2 separate regions of the Homo sapiens genome follow, and region 1 is linked to region 2. The links come from fine-mapping of genetic effects on gene expression. A gene starts in region 2. The other region holds a variant in brackets. All regions are shown on one strand. Distances are between the middles of the regions.

Region 1 (5,382 bases), 27 kb after region 2:
CAATAAGAGCTAAGTAACTTTTATAGAATACCTCACTGAATAACAACATTATACACTCTCTTTTCAAGTGCTCAGCAAACATAAGCAGATACATCATATCGTAGGTCAGAGCAACAATCCCTAAGACATTTAAAAGAATGTACATCACACAGAATGTGTTCTCTTACCATGATGAAATCAAACTAAAAATGAATAACGTAAAACTAAGAGGAAAATCTTCCAACACTTGGAAACTAAACAACACACTTCTAAATAATCCTTAAAAAGGAAGTACCAAGGGAAATTAGAAAATACACAATACTTAATGAAAATAAAAATACAACATATTAAAATGTGCCAGACACTCCCTGTTGATAGGGAAATTAATAACCTAAATGCATATATTAGGAAAGAGGATAAGTATCAAATCAGTAATAAAAGCTGCCAACTCAAGAACTCTGAGAAATAAGGGCAAACAAAACCAAAAATATCCAGAAGAAAAGAACAATGATTCAAGTATAGATCAATGAAATTTAAAACAGGAAACCAATAAAGGAAATCAATGAAAGGAAGAGCTGGGTCTTCAAAAAGATCAATAAAATTGACAAATCTCTTTTTAGACTGACAAAGAAAAAAGAGAATACACAATGGCCAATATCATGAGTGAAGCAGGGGATATTACTACAGACTCTGCAGACAACACAAGGAAAATAAGGAAATACTATTAACAAACCTGCCAGACAAAAATTTGGCAACTTAGATAAAGTGGACCAATTTATCAAAAAACACAAATTGCCACAGCTCACCAAACACGAAATCAATAGTTTGAATAGTTCTATAACTATTAATAAAATTGAAGATGTAATTTTAAAATTTTCCCCAAAAGTCATAACCAGGCCTGGATAGTTTAGAGAAATTCTACCAAAAAATTAAAGAAGAATTAACACCAATTCTATACAATCACTTCCAGAAAATAGAAAAGGAAGAGACACCTCCCAACTTATTTGATAAGTATTACTATAATGCCAAAAGCAGAAAAAGACAATACAAAACCCAGCAAACTACAGACCAATATTCAAAGAGGGAAACTTTCTAACTTGATAAAGACCATCTACAGAAAACCCACAGCTAGCACTTCACCTAATGGTAAAAGACTGAATCCTACTCTGTACAGTTGGGAAAAGGCAAGGTTGTCCATTCTTCATTCTAATTACTTCTATTTAATACAGTACTGGAAGTCTAGCCAGTGCAATAAGGCAAGAAAAAGAAATAAAAGCCATACAGTTCAAAAAGGGAGAAATAAAATTGTTTCTATTTGCAGATGACATGATTATTTATGTATAAAGTCTCAAGAAATCTACAAAAAAACCCCAAAACCTTTCTAGAATGAATATTTATGGCAAGATTGCAGGAAACAAGTTAATATAAAAAATCAATTGTATTTCTATATATTAACAATGAGCACATGGACATTGAAATGAAAAATACATTACTGGCCAGTGTGGTGGCTCATGCCTGTAATCCCAGCACACTGGGAGGCTGAGGTGGCAGGATCACCTGAGTTCAAGGCTGCAGTGAGCTATAATCACACCATCTCTCTCCAGCTTGGGCGAAAGAATGAGACCCTGACTCCTAAAAATAAATAAATAAAAATACATTATCATTCACAATAGTACCAATAAAAAAGAAATAGGTGTAAATCTAACAAAATGTGTACAGGACTTACATGTTGAAAACCACACAATGTTGTTGAGAGAAATTTAAAAATATATAAACAAATGAAATACTGTGTTATTGAGTTAGAGATCTGATACACTAAAGATATCAGTTCTCAAATTGATATACAGTTTAATACAATTCCTAGCCAAATACCAGCAAAGTTTTTGAAGGTATAGAAAATAAAAAGCAGGCGAGGTGCGGTTGCTTAAGCTGGTAATCCCAGCACTTTGGGAGGCCAAGTCAGGTAGATCACATGAGGTCAGGTGCCAAGACCAGCCTGGGCAACATAGTGAAACCCTGCCTCTACTAAAAATACAAAATTAGCCTGGCGTGCTGGCACACGCCTGTAGTCCCAGCTACTCAGGAGACTGAGGCAGGAGAATCGCTTGAACCTGGGAGGCAGAGGTTGCAGTGAGCTGAGATCACACCACTGTACTCCAGCCTGGGTGACAGAAGGAGACTCTGTATCAAAACAAAAAAAAAAAGGAAGGAAGGAGGGAGGGAGGGAAGGAA[A/G]GAAGGAAGGAAGGGAGGGAGGGAAGGAAGGAAGGAAGGAAGGGAGGGAGGGAAGGAAGGAAAGTAGAGTAGCTAAAACAATTTTTAAAAAGAATAAATGGGGCTGGGCCTGGTGGCTCAAGCCTATAAGCCCAGCACTTTGGGAAGCTGAGGCGAGTGGGTCACTTGAGGACAGGAATTCAAGACCAGCCTGGCCAAAATGGTAAAACCCCATCTCTACTAAAAACACAGAAAATTAGCCAGATGTGGTGGCATGTCTGTAATCCCAGCTTGTTTGGAGGCTGAGTCAGGTGAATCGCTGGAACCTGGGAGGTAGAGGTTGCAGTAAACCGAGATCACAGCCACTGTACTCCAGCCTGAGAGAAACAGCAAGACTCTGTCTCAAAAACAAACAAACAAAAAGAATAAATGGAGAGAAATTGGTCTATCCAATTTTAAAACTTACCATATAGCTATAGTAATCAGAATCAGAGTGTGGTATGGTGAAGGGATAGACACATACATCAGTGGAATTTCTGTTGAGAACCCCAAAATAGACCACCACAAATATACCTAACTGATATTTGACAAAGCTGCAAAAGCAATTCAATAAAGGAAAGATAGCCTTTTCAACAAGCAGTGCTGGAGAATTGTGCATCCATAGGCAAAAAAAAAAAAAAAATGAACCTCAACCCACTTTTCATACTTTATACAAAAATGACCTCCAAATGGATTATGAATTTGACTGTAAAATGTAAAACTATAAAACTTTTAGAAATAAACATAGGAGAAAATCTTCAGGACCTAAGCTAGGTAGAGAGTTCTTAGACTTGACATTAAATCATAATTCATAAAAGAAAAATTGATAAATTTGACTTCATCAAAATTAAAACCATTACACACTGCTAAAGATCCTGTTATAAGTTTGAAAAGACAAGCTACAGTTTGCAAGAAAGTATTTGCAAGTTGCATATCAGAGAAAGGGCTAGTATCTAGAAAGTATAAAGAGCTCTCAAAACTCAACAGTGACAAAGTAAACAATCCATCTGGGCATGGTGGCTCATGCCTATAATCTCAGCACTTTCAGAGGCCTAGAGAGGTAGCTCACTTAAGCTCAGGAGTTCGAGACCAGCCTGGGCAATATGGTGAAACCCCATCTCTACAAAAAATATAAAAATTATCCGGGTATGGTGGACTGTGCCTGTAGTCGCAGCTACTCAGAAGGCTGAGGTTGTTGCAGGAACCAAGGAACTGAAGAAACCAATGGGTGGAACAGGAGGATTCTATTTAGGTGCACTGGCACAGCAGATTTGCATCCAAAAGGCTGAGCCCCAAACAAAGACTTGGCTTGACTTTTATACATGCATCAGTGGTGCAAAATGCAGTGGTGCGAAAGCAGGTTTATAGAAGCAGAATAAAGGCAGTTTATTAAACAGCAACAGGCTCATAACTCAGGCTTTCATGTGATTCTTGCTATGCGGGCCAGGTGGCTGTTATCTAGGCTTGCTGAAGATGCCCGCATAATCTTATCTCGTGTCCTTCCCTATGGCACCCAGATGGCTACAGTCTAAGCTTTCTCAAGCTTGCTCAAAACTTGCAGTGCAGGATACAATTGCACGGGGTGGGGAGGGATTCAAGGGGGAAACTGTTCATACCACAGGAAAGGAAGAAAGTTTGTTTTTTTTCTTCTTGCATCTTCTGCTTCAAGGTAAGAGGATTGCTTGAGCCTGGGAGGCAGATGTTGCAGTGAGCTGAGATCATGCCACTGTAGTCCAGCGTGGGCAACAGAGTGAGACCTTGTCTCAAAAAAAAAAAAAAAAAGTAAACAATCCAATCAGAACAAGTGCAACACATGAAGAGACACTCCACAAAAAACAAGATGTACAGATAGTAAGTAAGCACATGAAAAGATCTTTGGTATCATTAGCTATTAGGGAAATGTACATTAAAACCACAATGAGATATCACTACACACCTATCATAACGGTTAAAATTAAAAATAGCAACACTGCCAAATGCTGGTGAGGATGTAGAGAAACTGGATCACTTATACATTGCTGATAGGCATAGAAAATGAGACAGCTACTCTGGAAAACATTTTAACAGTTTCCTAAGAAACAAAGCATGACACTACCATATGACTTAGTCACAGAGATTTCCCTGCAATAAATCTCACCAGACCCATTAGAAGAGACTGGCTGCCCAAAAAACAGCAAACAGCAAAAGTATGCTTTCAAAGGGGAAGCCATTGCAAAAAAAAAAAAAAAGAAAAGAAAATGGCCTTAAGAGAAAAACCAAGAGAAAAACAGAGAATTGCAAACTTGTGTTCACACAAAAACCTGTACATGAGTTTTCATAGCAGCTTTATTCCTAATAGTCAAAAATTGAAGGAAAAAATGCCCTCAAATATCTCTCAATAGATGAATGGTTAAACAAACCATGATACATCCATACCTTGGAATACTACTCAGAAATGAAAAGGAACAAACTACTGATACATACAATAATGCATTACGAGAATTATATTGAGTGAAAAAAAACCAATTCCAAAAGGTTACGTGCTGTATCATTTCATTTATGTAACATTCTTTTTGCTGTTGTTATTTTCAGACAGGGTGTCATTCTATCGCCCAGGCTGGAGTGTGGTGGTGTGATCATGGTTCACTTCAGCCTTGACCTCCTGGGCTCAAGCAGTCTTCCTGCCTCAACCCCCAAGTAACTGAGACTACAGATGTGCACCACCATGCCTGGTTAATTTTATATTTTTTGTAGAGATAGGGTCTCACTATGTTGCCTGGGCTGGTCTTGAACTTCTGGTGTCAACAATCCTCCCACCTCAGACTCCCAAAGTGCTCGGATTACAGGTGTAGGCCACCATGCCTGACCCTATAATATTCTTGAAATGGAAATATTATAGAAATTGAGATGAGACTAGTGGTTGCCAGGAGTTAAGGAAGGCATAGAGGCAGCAGGAAAGTGGACATGGTTATAAAAAGGCAACATGACACATCCTTGTGGTGATGGAAATATTCTTTGTCTTCACTGTATCAATGTCAATATCCTGGTTGTGAATAGTTTTGCAAAATGTTACCACTGGGGAAAACTGGGTAAAGGGTACATGGGACCTCTATTACTTGTTACAATTACACATAAATCTATAATTTCCTCAATATAAAAAGTTTAATTTAAAAT
Region 2 (5,382 bases):
GGCGCCCGCCACCACGCCCGGTTAATTTTTTGTATTTTTAGTAGAGACGGGGTTTCACCGTGTTAGCCAGAATGGTCTCAATCTCCTGACCTCGTGATCTGCCTGCCTCGGCCTCCCAAAGTGCTGGGATTACAGGCGTGAGCCACCGCGCCCGGCCAAAACCAGGTCAAATTCTAAGAAGGGATCCCTTTGCAGGAAAATTGTAAAGACATTTATCAATTTATTCAAACATCTGTAGAGCTACCTCTCAACCCACCTTTATGAGCCCCTAATCTTTAGCTCTTAGCATTATACTGAGCCCCACAGGAGATTTTAATGCTAAACTCCTAAAATCCAACCTGTTTTTTTAAAAAAATTAAACTGTACTTCTAAAAGGAAATTTCAAAAGTACAAAAGGGGAGAAAGATTTTTCTCCCTCAGCCAAAATCAAGCTAATGAGGTATTTTTATGTAAGCTTTGGGCTATGTACTGTGATGCTAATTTCACAAACTACAAAAACTGGGCAGGACCTCTACTTCAAGATGGCAGGCTTCCAAGCAGGCCCCTTTCCAATCAAGAGGGCTATCGTGATTTCCACAGAAGTCCTTACAAAGCAAATACATCAAACGCTTCAACAAATGGTACAAGGAGCCAAGTTAAAGATCAAATAGCACTCCAAATGCAGGTGGGATACCGGATTCCATTTTAGCACTCTATTACTTGAGGCTGTCATTCAGTTCTTGTTGCTGTCCCTTTGCTATACAAGACTTAAGTTTTTAAAAGTCCTTTTATAAAGTGCAAATTACTTACATAGAAATGCTTCATTCATTCATAAATACTGAACAGCCTGGCACTGCTCTCAGAAAATGTAATTGGCATCTATCTTGTATAAAAAAAGGATAGTGGTTTGTCATTTCTTAATATTTAACGAGATTTCCTAAGTGTTGCATTAGGTCCTGTGTTTTTATTCCTTAAATGGGGCCATGGAATAGCAGAAGTGATTCCTTACACTGAAAACTTTGAAAGGGCAAGCTCTGGTATAGATTCTACAAAATATGCTAAGATGTAAGATGTCAGGTGACCAGAACATTCTTGCCCTCCTTCTTGGCCTAACATTACGCATTTCAGTCTCTTGCAGATAAAGTTATTTTCATGATGATGGCACTCCCAACATCCCTATACCCCTAAGTAAACTCCGTTCAATCATCTTAGGAAGTTTTTGTCTTTTGCCCTCTTAACAAGGCAGGACAACGTGTAAAAGGTAGAGCTACTAAATATAAAGGTTAGGTGTATGTGTAGGGGGGTGGCTCACACCTGTAATCTCAGCGCTTTGGGAAGCCAAGGTGGGAGGATCACTTGAGCCCACGAGTTCGAGACCAGCGTGGGGAATATGGTGAAACCCCGTCTCTACTAAAAACACAAAAATCAGCCGGATGTGGCGGTGCGTACATGTAATCCCAGTTACTTGGGAGGCTGAGGTGGGAAGACTGCTTGAGCCCGGTAGGCTGCAGTGAGCCGTGACTGTGCCACTGCACTCCAGCCTGGGACACAATGAATGTTGGGAGCTGAAAAGGATCTCAGATCCCATTTTCCAGATGAGGATATTCAAGGCCCCAGGAAGGTGTAATAGACTGCAAGATCACAGGGGCAGGAAGGAGAACTCAAGTCTGCCATCTTCTTAAGCAGCAGTGTTCATCGCATTACTGCAGGAATTACCACCCTTTACTCATCAATCTACCTGCAAGCAGTCAGAGGCCCCAGACAGCCTCAAAGGCGGCATTCTATTGGAAGCTGTCCGAGAAATACAGGCTGAGCTTTAACAAGTCAGCACAAGCCAAGAGTTATTTACCAGGCAAACGTATCTTTGGAGGAAAAGCCACAAAAAAGCAGCAAGGCAAATAGTCAAGACGGAGATGAACTTCTTTGGCAGGTAAGTAATAACTAATACCATTTATAGTAGGCGTTTTTCGTGCCAGGCACTATGTTAAGTACACTTTCACGTCAGGTTTAATTCTTTGCAACAAAGGTGCTATCGTTATTCTCACTTAGCCAATGAGGAAACTGAGGCTCAGGAAAGCGAAATGGATTACTCAAGTCCCATGGTGGCTCAGATTTGAACTCAGGCATGTCAGGTTCCAAGACCAGCTACACATGGTTTTCTTCATCCGGAAAGCCAATGCCCAGCTCCACCGGGGCGGCGACTCAGCTCTGAAACCACGCCCCATCGCACCCACCCCCGCGAGGGTCCCTAACCCCTGATATTTATTTTAAACATGTCATTGTCTTCCGTTTCACCCAACCCCCACTCTTCTACCCTCTCCAGGAGCCCGACCCTACGTTCTGGCTTCCGTTAGAGCAAAAAGTAACGTTCCACTCAGAGCAACGTCCTGCAGCTAAGAGTAAGGCTGGGGGGTGGGGGGTGGGGGGTTGGGGGTTGGGGTGGAGGAAGTAGGAAACGAGCAAATGGTCGGCGAACGCTTTGACCCACCAAGCCCTTTAAATGCACTTAACCACCGCCCGGGACTACGGTCGCTTCACACTGCGTGCGCAGCCCAAGTTCTAGGAGACCGGTTCGCAAGACCTTAAACCTCAGACGCGCTGGCCCTCAGCGGTTAGAAGCGGACGCGTCTCTTGCCGGGCGGGGTGCGCGCCCAAGGGCCACCCACTGAGCGCGGGTATAGACGCGGCGAGCCACGCACTGGCTCCGAGTTGTGTGCGGGAAAGGGCTGGGCCGCTGCGGGACAACCTCCCAGGGGGCAGGCAGGCTGGCTCTGCCTGGCAGGCAAAATCGGGACCGGCCAGCGCTCCCGGCCGCTGTCCGGCCTTTGGCGGACGCACGTGCCTAGGGCTTTCCAGCGCTGCTAGCCATCCTGCAAACGACTCAAGTCTCCACGCCGCCCGCACTTCGGGTGCGCACGCCACGCAGGAACGTCCCCATGGCCCTCAGTTATCCCAGGTGCACAAAATCAGGGGCTTGCCCAAGCGGGCAACGCCTAGGCAGGCCACCAGTTAAGGCAGCGCTAGGCTGCGGAGTTGGAGAGGGTCGGCCCGCGCCCGCCTGCGTCCAGCACCCACCGCGCCCGCCCCTCGGGTTCGCCCGCCCAGCCCTCACCGGCACGCGGCGAGCGTCCATGCTGGTGGCGGGTGCCCAGATCGGCGCTTGGAGCGGGGAGAGCGGAGCAGCCGCGCGGTCAGCGGTCCCACAGCAGGAGGAGCAGCAGCAGCGCGGCTGGCAGGCTGGGCGCGCCGACCCGGGCCCGGAGGGGCGGGGCTCGGGCTGTCTTTCCCGCGTTGGGACACAGGTCCTGCAAGCTGTGGTAACGGCCAGACATGGCGCAAGACTAGGTGGCCCCCTGGAAAAAACACGACCCCCCTATATATTCTGACCTCAAAGGATAGCCTTGGGCACTCCTAAAATCCCCTTTGAGAAAGGGGGGCTTTAGGGGCTACGGGGACCACTCTCCTTGTGCAGCTGCGCGGTCCTGAGCGAGTGGCGCGAAAATGGTTCGTATTGCCCCGGGGTTAGCTGTCTGATTTGCAAGAATTTTCGTGGTGGCGGAGGAAAAGTGGAGTCTGGGGGGTAAAGGAGAGCAGCGTGAGGGTGGCGCGGGTCACGCACCATGGCGTTTAGCACTTTCATTGCTGCGTGCGGTTTACAAGATTTAAAAAATCATAGAATCCAGCACGAACTCCACCCTTCATAATCGAGTTCACCGCCCCTGGATGTAGCACCTCTTATCTGGGAACCACACCATTATCTGAAGCAATAAAATGAGTTAAATCCTGATCTTTCTTTCCAAAAAGCACAGGAAGCCGACTTGTTTACTTGTGGTTTTCAAAGTAGAAGAAAAGCCGCAGCAGCTTGATGAAGACGTCTATAGTATAGTTAACCTTTAACGATTATCTGTTGGGGATTGAAACTAAAGATTGAACAATTGTGGCTTGATGATCTTCTCTGTCTTCAGAATTGAGAACTACCCTGAGTCAGTGCGAACGAGAAAACTTTTCATTGCCCTTTTAACCAAACTTGGCATTACAACGAAAAAATGAAATAAAGCGAGGCTTTTTGTGTGCGTGAAGAGCAAAACTTGCTTCTACAAGAAAAAGTAAATTTAGTTTCTTTAGAAGACACTAATTATACTCTTAACATTTAAAACAAGCGCTTGAAATGAAAACATTCGCATTTCCCCCTCATTTCAAAACTTTTCTCTGGGGAATAATTAATTCCTTTGCAGTAAGAGAGTGCATGGACATACTGTGTTCCTCTCTTGGTGTACTGAATACAAAAACTGTGAGCAAGTAAATAATGCCCGAGGACAATGGATTGGAAGGAGTCTTCCAGCCTTTCTTAAATATACCTACCCAGTAATCACTCTGCCACTGTGCAAGGGACAAAGAGCTCAAGGTCTAGAAGGTGAGTGCCAGGAGGAGAGGCTATCGGTGGGTGGTGAAATTACGGAATTACAGGGCCCTCAGTAAGTATTTGTTGAATGAATAAACATTTGGGAATATAATTTTGTGCCACTAAAGCTAAATATATGAAAATTTGGAATTACTAGATCCATGAAGCAGGGGAAGATTAAGTCACTTTGCCTGTGAAAGGTTCTGATAGGGAAATTTTTAGTCTTCCTGGGAGCACAAGAAAATAATTTGGTGTATGTGTTTTTTAAGGATAAGATCTCTGGTCTATTCGTCTTTTTAGTAATCAGGAAAATGCAAATTAAAACAAGTGTCACTGGAAAGGGGTCCCGATCTAGACCCCAAGAGAGGGTTCTTGGATCTTGCACAAGAAAGAATTCAGGGCAAGTCCGTAAAGTGAAAAAGCAAGTTTATTAAGAAAGTAAAGGAATAAAAGAATGGCTACACCGTAGATAGAGCAGCCCGAGGGCTGCTGGTTGCCCATTTTTATGGTTATTTCTTGATTGTATGCTAAACAAGGGGTGGATTATTCATGGCTCCCCTTTTTAGGCCATATAGGGTAGCTTCCTGATGTTGCCATGGCATTTGTAAACTGTCATGGCGCTGGTGGGAGTGTAGCAGTGAAGACAACCAGAGGTCACTCTCCTCGCCATCTTGGTTTTGGCTGGCTTCTTTACTGCAGCCTGTTTTATCAGCAAGGTCTTTATGACCTGTGTCGTGTGCTGACCTCCTACCTCTTCCTGTAACATAGAATGCCTTAACCTCCTGGGAATGCAGCCCAGCAGGTCTCAAGGCTTATTTTGCCCAGCTCCTATTCAAGATGGAGTTGCTGTAGTTCAAATGCCTCTGACACAGGAGATACAATTTCACTCAGACTGGCAAAATTTAAAGCGCCTGATAAGACCAGATATTGTTAAGAATATGAGAAACTCCCACAATGATGTTAGTAGTGTAAATTTTTAACTTTGCAGAGCAATTTGGGAA

Direction of the effects. Alleles are on the strand shown, and positions count from the first base shown. SD is a standard deviation of normalised expression in the study named.
In carriers of allele A in region 1, the expression in monocytes of the gene that starts at base 3,204 in region 2 tends to be lower than with G alone (large effect, 1.0 SD a copy in CEDAR).

Evidence for each region. PIP is the estimated chance that this variant, and not a neighbour inherited with it, causes the effect.
Region 1: its variant is the best candidate, but not a certain one, in a credible set for the expression of CDCA7 in monocytes (CEDAR, PIP 0.55).

Annotation. Positions count from the first base shown.
Region 1 is chr2:173,325,959-173,331,340 of GRCh38, reverse strand. No RefSeq gene overlaps it. Among named protein-coding and RNA genes, the nearest start is that of CDCA7, 26 kb to the left of the region's middle. The variant A/G (reference allele first, on the strand shown) is at 2,212.
Region 2 is chr2:173,352,694-173,358,075 of GRCh38, reverse strand. CDCA7 (cell division cycle associated 7) reads right to left here and starts at 3,204. Exons shown (of 10, transcript NM_031942.5): 1 at 3,092-3,204. The coding sequence starts at 3,112. RefSeq lists a silencer at 2,993-3,262 and enhancers at 3,813-3,902, 3,205-4,160.